3 separate regions of the Homo sapiens genome follow, and regions 2 and 3 are each linked to region 1. Evidence: fine-mapped expression QTL. A gene starts in region 1. Each other region holds a variant in brackets. All regions are shown on one strand. Distances are from middle to middle. Region 1 holds the start of RAPGEF4 (Rap guanine nucleotide exchange factor 4). Region 2 overlaps RAPGEF4 (Rap guanine nucleotide exchange factor 4). Region 3 overlaps RAPGEF4 (Rap guanine nucleotide exchange factor 4).

Evidence for each region. PIP is the estimated chance that this variant, and not a neighbour inherited with it, causes the effect. A credible set is the group of variants that fine-mapping cannot tell apart.
Region 2: its variant is the best candidate, but not a certain one, in a credible set for the expression of RAPGEF4 in stomach (GTEx, PIP 0.63).
Region 3: its variant is the best candidate, but not a certain one, in a credible set for the expression of RAPGEF4 in ovary (GTEx, PIP 0.68).

The regions. Positions count from the first base shown.
Region 1 is chr2:172,734,586-172,737,347 of GRCh38, forward strand. It overlaps RAPGEF4 (Rap guanine nucleotide exchange factor 4), which reads left to right and starts at 1,260. Exons shown (of 31, transcript NM_007023.4): 1 at 1,260-1,463. The coding sequence starts at 1,399. It overlaps RAPGEF4-AS1 (RAPGEF4 antisense RNA 1), which reads right to left and starts at 1,621. Exons shown (of 4, transcript NR_026995.1): 1 at 1,541-1,621; 2 at 710-876.
Region 2 is chr2:173,006,890-173,009,651 of GRCh38, forward strand. The region is part of intron 17 of RAPGEF4 (Rap guanine nucleotide exchange factor 4); the gene reads left to right. Among named protein-coding and RNA genes, the nearest start is that of MAP3K20, 68 kb to the right of the region's middle. The variant G/GC (reference allele first, on the strand shown) is at 1,180.
Region 3 is chr2:173,001,533-173,004,294 of GRCh38, forward strand. All of the region lies in intron 17 of RAPGEF4 (Rap guanine nucleotide exchange factor 4), which reads left to right. Among named protein-coding and RNA genes, the nearest start is that of MAP3K20, 73 kb to the right of the region's middle. The variant C/T (reference allele first, on the strand shown) is at 1,548.

The sequences.
Region 1 (2,762 bases):
ACACTGTGGCAGGTCTGAAACTAGATCCTGGCTATCCAGCAGAGGGAAATGGCACATATTTGGAGGCTTTTATATCATGGTAATAATTGTTTTATTAGGATCAAAGCATCCCAGAAAGCACTTGCTCTTTCCTTCTCTCCAGTCCCCCTGACTCTCCCCTGAGCAGGGTTGGATAGGAGGTTTGGTGGGGGGAGGAGGCAGGGAACAGTAGAAGAAAGCAATGCTATGTCCCTTTCCCCCATTGTCTGGCCCCAAATGTAGTGCCATAAATATCAAAACAGTGCTTGGTAATAGTCCAAAACATTTAACTTGTCCGCAAATTCCTAAACAACCATTGGCGTGTAATTTGGTTCTTGGCAGAGTGTAACTGAATAACTTGTAGACATGACATTTGTGTGAACATCTACAAGAGACAGGCCGTTATCACCACCCATTCAACACTCCAGCCAGAGGAAGAACAGCAAGGGGGCCAGCCATACAAGTTCACCTGCGCGTCCGGGGTCTCGGTTCTGCTGTGGCCCGGCTACTCCCCATTCTCAACTGTGTTTTCTTCACCATGCAGGTGATGGAAGCCCAGGCAGGCCCAGGGTTCAAGGCCAGTGACTTCAGCCTGTCACCCCCTCAGACCACATCGGGCCCACCGGCCTCCTCCCTCCCTGCCCCTCAGCCCTGCCCGCACTGCCCCCCATTGCGCCCAGCCCTTCCTCACCCCGCAGGAGAAGCTGGCCTCTCATTCCTCACTGAGAGACTCGACGGGCGTCCCCACGCCAAGCCTTCCTCGCCCTCCCCTCCAGCCTTTTCTGAAGGGGAGACAGCAAAGGTGAGCAAGCAACCGCCGGCAAGTTTCGACAGCTGCTGAGGAAGACTCATGGGTTTCTAAGGAAACAGAGAGGCAGCAGCCATTTTAGTAGCATTTGCTGTATGAAAAATATATAGACACTGGCAGCCCTCTCCCCACTCTGCCTTGGCGCCTGCCCTCCCGCCCCGCCTCAGAGGCCCCGGGGTGAGGGTGGGGCCCCAGTCTCCGAGGGACGCAGCGGACACCTGTCGCAGGTGGCCGGCCACCGGGGTCGCCACCCCCAGTGTCCCCCAGCAGCGGGACCGCGGGGTCCCCACCCCGGGGCGGAATCCCCACCCACGGGCGCCGCAGTGCAGCGGCGGGCGGGCGGGCGACTCGGCCCTCCCCGCACCCGCGTCCCGCCCCCCGGGTCCCCTCCCTCTCCCCACCGCCCCAGGCCGCGGGAGCCCGCGGGGAGGGCGGGCCTGTCGCAGCCGCGCTGGTCGCCAGGCGTCCGGGAGGAGCGGGGTCCGCGCGGCGGACGAGGCGGGGGCGGAGGCGCAGGCAGAGCGAGCGCGGGAGGTCGCCGCAGCCAGGGACACCGCGCGCCGCCGCTCAACATGGTCGCTGCGCACGCTGCCCATTCTTCCTCCTCTGCCGAGTGGATCGCCTGCCTGGATAAAAGGTAGCTCGCCGGGGGCCGCAGCCGGGGGCCGAGCTCTGCGGTGCTGCCCGGGCCCTGAGACCGCCGCAGCTCCGCACCTGGGCGCAGCGCGGCCGGGCTGCGGGTGGCCGGGGTCCCCGAGCGGGGGAAGGGGTTGAGGTCCTCGTCCGGGAGACAGGAGGACAAGGATCCCCGCCTCTCGTGGGGTGCCAGCGGCATGAGATTATTACACGTGGTGGAGAAAATGCAGCGCAGTAAGGGGAGAGAGCACCCACCTCTCCAACCCCCTGCCCTGCCGCGACTCCAGGCTCCGCTCCTGGGTGGGGGTTTATTTTCTCTTGGCATCACGGGACAGAAGAATCGATGCATACCCTTTCCGGCTATTCAGACCTTGCGGGGTATGAAGTTTTAAAGAGGGGTGGGGGCACCGGCAGGTGCAGAGTAACATTCTTTTTTTGTTCTTGAAAGCAAAGTGTGAGGGACCCGGTGGAGCTGTCGAATCCCTTGCTGAAATTCACAGCTCTCTGCCCCCGCAGTCGCTCGCTCAAGGTCTGTGTTAGAGAAGGTCATTTGGGAGGCTGCTTTCGTCTTAATACCTGCTTCTCGGGAAAAGATCTTTACGCTAAAAATAATTAAAACCATAAAGCATGTAACTCCCGACGACAGCTCTCTCTAAGGAGGATGTGTGTGTTAACAGTGGATTGCAGTTGTTTCCAGGCTGTGACAGCATAATTTTCTGTTTGTCCAGATTGCAGGTTTAAACGTTACACAGTATGTTAGCAATTATAGCTTATTACCCTGATTAAAAGGTGATGCATCTGAACTTTTAAGAACTGAGCAAGAAATCTTGCAGAGTGAACTGCCTCTGAATTTCGGAGTTTGATGCAGAAGGGCAATGATGCACGTCTTGCAGCTATCTGCATGACATCTCTATTTGCATTTGTGTGAAATATTTTGTGCTCTGCCATATTGAAAAATTTTCAATTAACAGATTCGTAACCAGATCAAACTTGAAAATCTTAAGTGTGACGTGCTTTGCATACTCTATTATAGGCCTTTGTTGAAAAATATTAAGTAATTTGAGAAAAGCTAAATGTAGCTCATTTGAAAAGCTTAATATATCTGAGAAATAATCTTGACTTTCAATTACCACTCAGTAGCAAGATTTTTTGGCAGGTAGTGCCCTATTTATGTCTAAAATGATATGTACTAATATTAAAAGAGTTGCATGCAATAAATAGTAAGAGAATTAAAGTAATAGTTAAATCACACAGGATTATGTAGAAGAACTAAGAGTATTTAAAGTATAGAGGTTGTTAA
Region 2 (2,762 bases), 270 kb after region 1:
CATATGTCACCGTCAGAGGAATTTGCTTCTGCAGATATGCAATTTGAGTTTGTTTCCATGAGGAAGACTTTGTTTGGTGATGTTATGAACATGATATGCTTTTTGGGAAAAAAATGACTGTCATCAGATATGCTAAAAAATATTTCATATACATGTTCTCGGCCTCATATCAACACTATGTACTCTTTTAGTCTTGTTTTTCACAATAGGGAAAGTGAGCTTGAGCAGCTAGGTAATTGGCCCCTAGCTACCTAGCTAGTAAATGTTAGAACAAGATTTGAACCCAAGCAGTGTATTGCATTAGGGCACGTCCTAACTGCTGTGCTATGAGTACAAGCCCTTGGCTTGAGACTTAAAAGGAGAATAGCCAGGAACTAGAGACTTCTAAAAACACAGAGGATTCTGAAAATCAGTGGGAAAAATATTCTGAGCAAGAAAATGGGAGATATGTAAAGAAATTGATGGTACAGAAGGCGCTCCTATGAGCTCAAAGTTAGTAGGTACACACAAACAAAGGAGCAGCCTGTGTGGATAGGAGTAACATCACAGACTTAAACCCAGAAATGCCAGGTCTTATGAAAAATTCCACAACAGTCCATTGAAAATATTTTAAATGACTTCCAGAGAAGAATCAGTAATAACATTGGTGGCTAAGATTTACTGAATACTTAATATGTTTCAGATACATGTTTTACCTGTATTATCTCATTTCATCCTTGACAGCAATCTTATGAAGTTTACTGATGAGGAAACCAAGGCTCTAAATGGTCAATTAACTTACCAAAGATCATACAGTTTTTATATAAGTAGGGAAGCCAGGATGGGACCTAAGTAGTGTAATTTCAGAACTTGCATTTTATGAACATGCCATATGAAGGAAGAAATAGACGCAGTGGTCAGAATGTCAGGCTGCTCCACAAAGACAAGAAGCCCAGATTATAGTAAAAAAAAGCAAAAGCTCTGAAGTAAAAAGACCTGTGTTTAAGACCTGTGTCCTATAAGCTATATTACTCAGCAATTATGCTTAACCTCTCCAAGCCCCTTCTGTAAAATAGGGGTAATTATATGATACGGTCTGGCTCTATGTCCCCACCCAAATCTCATCTCGAATTGTAATCTGAATTTTAATCCCCATGTGTTGGGGGCAGAACTGTGTGGGAGGTGATTAGATCGGGTGTG[G/GC]CCCCCCCATGCTGTTCTCGTGATAGTGAGTGAGTTCTCATGAGATCTGATGGTTTTATAAGGGGCATTTCCCACCTTCACTTGGCACTTCTCCTTCTTGGTGCCATGTGAAGGACATGATGGTTCCCCTTCCACCATGATTGTAAGTTTCCTGAGGCCTCCCCAGCCCTGTGGAACTCTTTCCTTTATAAATTATCCTAGAGTTGAGCAGTTCTTTACAGCAGTGTGAGAATGGACTAATACATTATACTTGCCCTACCCACTTTACCAGGTTGTTGTGAAAATCAAATGAGGTTATGTGTGTGAACATACGTTATAAACCTTAAAGTCCCATATATATGTTGCTGTTATTATTATACCATCAGGAGAGGAATATGGCATGTTATAAAGAATATACAAAAGCTTTGTCTTGTCAGTGGGCAGATGACCCCCAAAGTTTGTTTTCAGCTGCAAGCAGAGATCTTGTATGCAAAGCAGGGTTTTAAAAAACAACAACATTGAAGAGTATCAGTTTGAATGTTGTTAAGTGTTTTATAAATAGCTGCATAATTAGCATGTACTTACTGCAAAAAGTATACATAATATTTTATTCCCTGTTGTAGGCTGTAATGAATCTGCTGCCTCTACATCCTGGGAGGTTTTCACTTACTTTCCCCATGATAATTTTAATACATGGAACCATTATTAGCTGAATTAAGAATAAGTAAATGAGCAGTTAAAAAAAAGTACAGAAAAATTACAGGTGCCTGTGGTGAGTAAGATAATAACTAGGTAAAAATATATGAAATAATTACAGTGTTTGAACGGCAGAGCCGGCATGAGGAAAATGACTCAATGGAATATTAAGCCTGATGTTGGCAGGGTAGAAAAACTGTAGCCTACACTGTGGCCTTCACCTCTTCTGATTCTCAGCCCTAAAGCCTCACTGCAAACAGATCCAATCTGCTCTCAGTCACATGTACACAATGCTGAAGGAGGTGGTTCAGTTCCGAGAAGATTTAGTCACTCTGAAAGTTTGTCATCCTGTAGATTAAATACCCAATAACTGAAAGATTCTATTTAAAAGATGTACCAGATGTTTTACAATTAAATTCTTTATGAATTTATTTAGAATGTACCTCTGATCTGTATTTGACATCTTGACAAGATGGGATTCCGGGTAACTTAATTAAAGGCTCTTAAATAGCTGTGATATTTTTAAAGGTTTTTTGTTTTTTTAGAAAAGTGCATTAGATACAGCATTCCAAACAGTGCAAATAAATTATCTGTAATCAGTTGATTAAAAAATATTGAAGGCTTTTGTGTGCCCAGTCTTTAGCTAGAAAGTGCAGGAATTAACAGTGAGTTTACGACCTCGTTCCTTCTGTTAAGGATTTTGATTTAATGCTTCCAGATGGTGAGAAATACTTTATTACAGTTTAAGTATTCCTAATCTGAAAATCCAAAATCCAAAATGCTCCAAAATTCGAAGTTTTTTTAGCTCTCATACCAGTAGGTATAATGCAAACATTCCAAAATCCAAAAAAAAAATCTGAAATCCAAAACCACTTCTGGTCCCAAGCCTTTGGGAAAAGAGATACTCA
Region 3 (2,762 bases), 270 kb after region 1:
CTGGCAGAGGTCTGCTGTGCCATGTTTAAGGATTTCCTCCTTGTTACCTGTATTGGGCCATTCTTTCATTGCTATAAAGAAATACCCGAGGCTGGGTAATTTATAAGAAAAGAGGTTTAATTGACTGGCAGTTCTGCTAGGAAGTATCGTGCCAGCCTCTGTTTCTGGGGAGGACTTGGGGAAGTTACAATTGTGGCTGAAGGTGAAGGGGGAGCAGGAGCGAGGTGGGGGAGGTGGCAAACACTTTTAAACGACCAGATCTCATGAGAATTCACTATCTCAAGGACAGCACCAAGACACGAGGGGTCCACCCCCATGAACCAAACACCTCCCACCAGGCCCACCTCCAGCATTGAGGATTACATTTCAACATGAGATATGGGCAGGGACAAACATCCAAACTGTACCATTATCTGTGCAGAGAAGTGTGAACCAGCTTACCACAGGAAGGTGATGCTGGCAAAAAAAAAAAAAAAAAAAAAATCCATTGCCTGGGAGGCAGGCTAGAAAGGGTTATGGAGAAGAACCTGGGAGTATTAGCAGGAATGGTTCCCTAACCTCAGAGACAGACTGTTCCCTGGCAGGGTGGACTGTGGTCGGCTTGTGTTCCTCCTCCGAGCTATGGTATTAAATTGCTAAGCTGCTGAGATAAATACAAGTTATCACTGTAGGATAACTTTCTTTTCCCATTCATCCTCGTCTATCCTCTCCTCTAGATACCAAAATTTCTTTCTTTGTTACTACTTTTTATTATCATCTTACTGACTTAAAGACCCAAAATTTGAAACTCCAGTGACAATTCCTCTCTATAGCTTGAAGGCCAAGTTTATTTGGGACAGCTTTTCAACAGTGTTTGGAATGGCCCAGTTGATGCTGGTATGTAGCACAGAGCAAACATTCTCAGAAAATGGGAGTGGAATAAAAGAAGTGGGTATTATTAATAAGCTTCACACTCAATTTTGGGAGCATGTGAAAGTATATTCTAAGATTTTGTTTTATTTTTAGAACAACAAAAATTTAGACCCCAAATCACTTTGGCCCTTTTGAGCAGTTAAATATATTGAAGGAGAATGACTCTTTTATTCTTTCTTTTTTTTTTTTTTTAGGAATTCAGTGAATGTTGGCATGTTTTCCTCATTCAAGATTATAATTACCCTACCTGATTCTCATTTTCTTGTTCACTCATAATTCTCTTTGAAGTAAACAATGTATGAGGACAGGAGATTTGAGTTGAAGGTGCAACTCAGAGGCAGCTTCAAGAGGGAGATTTGTGTGTTTATTTGCCTGGAAACTGTTTTACCGAGTAATGATGGCTTAATGAGACTTACATACATTATATATTTTTTCTGGCACATACTCAATTTTTCTCGAGTAAAATGAACAAATTCAGGATGTCTGTGCTCTTTTAACTCCATACGCACTAATCATTATAGACCTTTGAGATTTGCTGGAAGGAAAAATAAAATCCACCATTGAGTTTAGACTTGGTTTTTTTTAGCAGATAAGCCTAAGGCAAACAAAACTCAAGGGCGAGTCAGCGAGTTCAG[C/T]GGGCCAAGGCCCGGCATCTTTACAAGTCCAAGCCCCAAACACTGCGCTTGTCTTTTTTTTTTTCAGATTCTAACTTCTTCGTGTATTAGCTTGTTCCCCTTCAAGGGTTGACTGAGAACATTCAAATCACTAACTTCTCTTTTTAAAATAGCGCTCTGGAGAGAAGGTCCGTTCCATGCCCAGGTAGGGAGGAGGGGGAAAAATGATACTGGCGGGCAGGGAGAGGGGAAGGCAAGAAAGCAAACAGGCGTGGAAGAGCTGTGACGTCAAATCTGACTTCTTTTGTCTGTAGACGGGGGAATCCAGGGTGACTGGGTATAATCTGTATTATCTAGGTCCCTCAGACCACCTGGCTCATATCTGGCCCTGTGGGAACTTAGATTCTCTTCACTGTTCTATTTTGAATCAGCTCTGTCTGTGTCAGGTGCATGCTAAGAGCATTGACCAATATTATACCACTCTATCCTGGCAGGATTCTATTGGGTTAGTATTAGCTTTGTGTTACAAATCAGGGTCCTGAAGTTACCCCCAGCCCCCACAAAAAAACAAAAAAGGAGTGGCTTGCCCAGGGCAAATAGCTGAGTTCTCCAGATGATTCCAAACCTGGAGTTTGCCTTTTTTTTTTCTCTCTCTCTCTTCACAACTTATTTATTTGAAAGCTTGTTTAAATTTTAATGATTCTGTAACCTTTAATTAGAGTTTAAGAACATTTCAAGACACTATATTGCATCATAAACTGCTTAACAGAACACCTGCAAGCAACAGGGATGTATAATGCAAACTTGAACAAGTGGTTTAACCCCTATGTTTTTAACGTGGGATATTAGGGATAGTAAAATACTTAACTATGTTTCATTAGTCAGTTGCTTTAGTGGAGTATTTTTAAAGTGCTTAACATCTGGAACTTTTCATAGCAGCCCTATGAAGAAGTCAGTATTTTTACTGCTATTTTTCTAAATCAATAAACTAGAATAATGAAAACTTATGAATTGCTCAGAGAAAGGTAATTACTAGCAGAGAAAAGATTTGAGCCCTGAGCTACTGACACGTATTTCTGTTCTTAATCCACATTGTGTGTCTCTTCCAGTTTTGCTTTTACCATGGAGAAAGATAGTAGAACTCTGCTGAACATTAATATATCAGGCCTTTTATGTGCTAATGAGAGAGACTCTCTATTCATTAGACACAGTTTGGACATGATTTGACCCGATGAA